Regions from separate parts of the Homo sapiens genome. Here region 2 is linked to region 1. Evidence: fine-mapped expression QTL. Tissue or cell type: whole blood. Region 1 holds a variant in brackets; the other region holds the start of a gene. All regions are shown on one strand. Distances are between the middles of the regions.

Region 1 (2,756 bases):
GGTTGCAGTGAGCCAAGATCACACCATTGTACTCCAGCCTGGGTGACAGAGCAAAAAAAAAAAAAAAAGATGAAATCAGACGCTCATGTGTGTGGCATAGATTATTAATGCAATCGAAATTCAGAAGCCAGTGAACTGAGAAAATGCTGCAGCTAGCAGAGTACTTTGCATGAAATTCTAATATTTTTCTGTTGGTGATTCTGATACTCTCCTTTTGCCATTTTAGTCCCATAAACTTCAGAAAATGGAAATGTCTTGGTTGTCCTTCATGACATTAAAGAGCATTTCAAAGAAGGGATGTTCTAGGAATAAGCTTTGTTAACACAGAGGCGATATAGAAACACTCCTATTGTTACAATTAGTAATAGTGAAAATATAAAGAATATGCAAATGACTGATAAAGAAGGTAGGGGGAAATGGAAAAAAAGCTCTGACTACTTAAACGGGGGCAGGGGATTACTGAGAAATAGAGGGAACCGATGTGAAGATCTGATATGAAGGCTAGGGGATGAAGAAGGCAAAGCCTGGAGACTTTGAAGACAGGCGCCGCCAAACTAGTCCCCTCGCCTTGCCCTCACTTCTGTTAACTTCCTACTGTGTGAGAAAAACTGGTGGCTGCCCATCTAAGCCCTAAGCTGCACAGAAGTGAGCAGTACAGCACATGCTTGGTTTTAAATCTATCTATGTGATGTTGCCATTGTTTTATTGTTGGAAAACCAACCACCAACCAACAGTACAAAAATGTATAAAGTAAAAAATAAAAGCCCCCCTCCTGGTTTTCCCACCTCCTCCAGCTCATTATGAACTGTTGGGTGGGGACATTGCTAAAATCGTCTATGTGTAGACAGATATAGGTGATGATATATTTAGTACATTTGCTGTTTTTGCAGAAACGAGAGCCACAGTGCATACTGTTCCATGACCGGCTTTGTTTTTACTTAACAAAGTGGCTCAATGACTTTCACATCAGCCCAGATAGAATGGCCTCTGCCTTGCTCAGGGCAGCAGCCCAGGCTGCTCTTCACTGCCCCAGAACCTGCCTGACCAGTGCTATACTAAGGGACATTCAGGTGGCTTCCAGGTTCTCACCGTCCCAGATAACCCAGCAATGAGGAAGCTTGTTGCTACTGAGCTCTTCAAAAGCTATGCCCATGTATCTTCCTCCTTTGTTCTCCAGGAAGCCTCACTCTTCATGACTGTAAGGTCAAAATGTGCATTTTTCTCCTTTTGTTCCTTAGAGGCGGAGAGACTTCCTCCAAATGGTCCTGGATGCCCGACATTCTGCAAGTCCCATGGGCGTGCAAGACTTTGACATCGTCAGAGACGTTTTCTCCTCTACTGGGTGCAAGCCGAACCCTTCCCGGCAACACCAGCCCAGCCCTATGGCCAGGCCTTTGACTGTGGATGAGATTGTGGGCCAGGCCTTCATCTTCCTCATCGCTGGCTATGAAATCATCACCAACACACTTTCTTTTGCCACCTACCTACTGGCCACCAACCCTGACTGCCAAGAGAAGCTTCTGAGAGAGGTAGACGTTTTTAAGGAGAAACACGTGAGTACAAGTTGGATCCAGTTACCCATGGGATATCCA[T/C]AGGACAATTGATTTTGTGTTTGTGGGAGTGAAACTTATTTTTAATGACTTGCTAATATCACATTCTAAGCTTATAAGATGAAATAGGGTCATTGCTTGGCTTCTCCTGCTCTCCGGGTTAGCAAGCGAAATGAAATGTTGAGAACAATAACCACAACAAAAAGACAAATTGTGTGTGCACCTTCACTGTCTGGGGTAGTCCATGAAGCCAGGCCTGGCTCGAGGAAGCTGTGGAAGCCCAGGAAGGTGTCAGGCCCAAAGGGCAGGGATGGGGAAGGAGTCATGGCTTCCCAATATCTGACTTGGAGCTGCCACACGGAGGGAGGCAGGTGTGAGCCAGAAAGGAGAGCCAAGATAGAAGGCAGGAGTGGACAAAAGGACAGGCCAAGCTGAAGCTGGACTGAAGACTGGAAGCTGAGGAGGAGGCTCACAAATGGAATAAGGGAAGATGGGGCCCGTCAGCGCCCAGGCCAGCTTCAGGGCATTTTCTTCTAGATGAGGCCCCTCTTGATCGTTTATAGCAGATATAACGAGGGTGCTGAGCAAGGCTACTTTATCACCTCATTTTTTCTTCTAGATGCTTGTGTGTGTATAACTTTGACTCATGAGTTGTCAAAGAGATTCATTTTTAAAATCTGTACTTTAAAAGGAAGACCACCACAGTGGAATCCTTTCTGTTACATTCTGATATGATTGCTATTACATTCACCATTTTGAAAGGTGGTCTGTTCTGTTACTGGAACCATTAAAAAATGTTTCATACAATGAACTGAAAACCACTTCCCGGGAAATTCTACTTCTTTATTCTACTGGGGAAGTAAAGGCAAAGTCAATGTCTCTTCTTCACAGCAGTTTTTAAATATTTGAAAACTGCATTCACTGTGTTACTAATTAATTGTCTTAACTTTAGGCTCAACATGAGTTTATGGTCAACTTCAAGTTCTAAGTAGTTATGACAACTGCCAAGCTGGGCCTTTCCAAACCCTGCTTACACAATTGATTTATTGAGCCTAGACGGAAGAGTTTATATTTATCCTTATTACTGTTCAAGTCAGTCAAAATAATTTTGAATCTTGATTCTGCCATCTGTTATATTAGCAATTCCTCCAGCCTCGTGTCATCTGAGACTTATTAAGCATGTCTCCTATTTCATCCAAGTCATTG
Region 2 (2,619 bases), 130 kb before region 1:
TGAGCTCTGATTTTCTTTCTTCTACTTGTTCAATTCTATTGCTGAGACTTTCCAGAGCATTTCACATTTCTAAAAGTGTGTCCAAAGTTTCCTGAATTTTCAATTATTTTTTCTTTAAGCTATTTCATTGAATATTTCTCCCATTCAATATTGGGGGATTGTGTTGGGAGAGGAGGGTCTCCCTTTCCCACTTCCGCAAATGGGGCACTCACAGTATTTGGAGTGTCTTCTGGGTCCTGCAGGAGCAGTCTGGTTCCTTCAGAGAGTCTGTGGGTCCTTTTGGGATTGCTGGTTTTTTCTTGCAGTTGATCTGGAGCTAAAATTCACCATGGAAGCCTCCAGATGCTGCTCTGTCTGAAGCTGCAATCTAGTCCTGCCACCCAGCCACTATGATCCCCTCCATCTCTCTGTCCACTTTAGTCAGATAAGCTCAAAGCTAGAACAAAGGACCCATATATGAGCCTACGGATCTGCCTTCAAACACTTGAGAAGCCCTCCAACTCACCATGAGAACACTGACCCCAATCGGGATCTTTGCTTTGCTCCAACAGCCAGACACTCAGACAGGTCCTCAGACCCAGCAACTAATGGACTTGGTGGGATGGTTGTCCTCAAAGCAGCCAGCATTTTGATCAGGCTGGCGTCTGGTCCTGTATTTTTCTGGGATATTCAGAATCTCTTGACATGTATCTTCACTTAATTGTGAATTTAAAAAATTATAGATGGATGTAGATATAGATATAGATATAGACATAGAGATAGATATAGATAGACATTTTGGAGAAGAGTCTCTCTTTGAAGACTTCCTCTCAGAGTACAAGTCCGTGGTTACAACCATTTTGTTTCTCAGCAAACATGGGGAAGTTTGCTTTTCTTCTCTGAGGAAGTTAATATAAATGTTTATTGACAGTGCAGTCATCAAGGAATAAAGTTGCTGATTCATTCCTTTACACTGAAACCCTTTGTTGTGCCCTCCTCTTCCTTCCTCTTTATAGGGAGACACTCTGAGAAAGAGCACATTGTGGGGGCCCACTCCATGTGATGTTTGCTTGGTTGCCTGTTCCCTTTTCTACCTGCAGAGCACGGTTCCCATAAGGGCGGCGAGATCAGCCTCCTGTCTCATCTGGAAGACCACCACTCTGGGGTCTCAGAGGAATGATGGAAGCCTTGGGGTTTCTAAAATTGGAAGTGAATGGCCCCATGGTGACGGTGGCCCTGTCAGTGGCTCTCTTGGCCCTCCTGAAATGGTAAGTGCAGCCAGCCCTAGGGACTGTGACAGCGTCAGCCGTCTCACCCTGGAGCCTTGCTGGTGCCATGGCGGGGTATGTGGGAGTGTGTTTTTCTTCTTTTCTAATCTAGCGGGAGTGAGTATTAACACAGCTTCAGAATTAAAAGCAAACAGCCAGGTTAATCTTTTGCTAAAATGCATGAGATTGAAGTGTCAGGAAAGGCTGGTGATTCAGTGACTGAGAACGCTACACATAATTAAGTTTGAAAGAGATGGAAAAAGAAACAAATTGGAAAGGCATTAGGTTTGGGTAGAAGCATTTCCTTGAACCCCGTCATATCTCCTCACCTCATTTTTCTAAAATCCTCTGTCCTTGTTGGATTTACAGTGAATTCAGCCTCTTGGTTCATATTACATTCAAAACAAAACAAGACGTAGGAGCTGTTTGGCAAATGTGGGCCTCTTTGCAGGAAGTCATTGAGGGGGATTTCTGTAGGGTTAAGGACAAAGTGGTAGATCTAATTTCTCATAGTTGATAGAGGGAGATGGATTCTGATGAACATAGTGTGTGCAGCTCCTACAAAATTTGAGACCCTGAAAGGATCTCAAACTTGAACTCCGAGTTGCTCCCCTGTGGTTTTGTTAATTCAACAGCAAATTTTCCTAAGGCTGACTCTGGTGTCTGTAGGTCGAAGGCCTCATAATATGCTACATTTATGCATATTCGCCCTGTCAGTTAAACTTATTAGAGTTACCCATTCAATCAAAAGCACCTGGATTTAGATGGCTCTGGCTTTTGAGGGCAAAGTGAGTGGAAAAAATAATGGAGGACTGGAGTCCGAACAGAATTTTAATTTATGTTTTCAGTAGTAATAAAGCCTTCTCTAGATTAATAACTGGGAAAGCACTTTGAAAAGCATCAAGCATTATGCAAATGTGAGGTATTATTCTTTTGGAATTTGCATAGCTGAGAGTGGAATTCACGTTTGATGTTCTATGATGATGAAATTACTTCTTGGAAATTGGCTCTGAAACCCAGCCTCAGTCCCAGTGCTGTTTTTCTTTTTAACTGGTTTAATTTTTTTTTTGAACTTTTTTATCTCATTGTAGCTTACCTTGGATTGAAACTGGCCACATGTAAAACCAAGAGCAAATGGTAGCTCCTTCCCTACCCCCAGCCCCCAATAATCCATCTCAATGTGTTTTTATGCTCCGGGAAGCCCGAAGCACAGTGTCTGACATGCAGAAAGTGCTTAGTCGATGTCAGCCACTATAATTAACCATCTATCATCTATGTAACCTAAAAGAAAATAAGTCTTTAGTGGTTTAGGTTTATTTTTAATTTCTTACTAATGTGCTTATTCATATTAATCTCATCAATAGCTATGCTC

Evidence for each region. PIP is the estimated chance that this variant, and not a neighbour inherited with it, causes the effect.
Region 2: it holds the start of TBXAS1, and the variant in region 1 is fine-mapped to the expression of TBXAS1 in whole blood (INTERVAL, PIP 0.97).

What each region holds. Positions count from the first base shown.
Region 1 is chr7:139,960,681-139,963,436 of GRCh38, forward strand. TBXAS1 (thromboxane A synthase 1) reads left to right here. Exons shown (of 13, transcript NM_001061.7): 9 at 1,239-1,553. Among named protein-coding and RNA genes, the nearest start is that of PARP12, 100 kb to the right of the region's middle. The variant T/C (reference allele first, on the strand shown) is at 1,593.
Region 2 is chr7:139,828,233-139,830,851 of GRCh38, forward strand. It overlaps TBXAS1 (thromboxane A synthase 1), which reads left to right and starts at 1,032. Exons shown (of 13, transcript NM_001061.7): 1 at 1,032-1,247. The coding sequence starts at 1,159. RefSeq lists an enhancer at 705-1,904.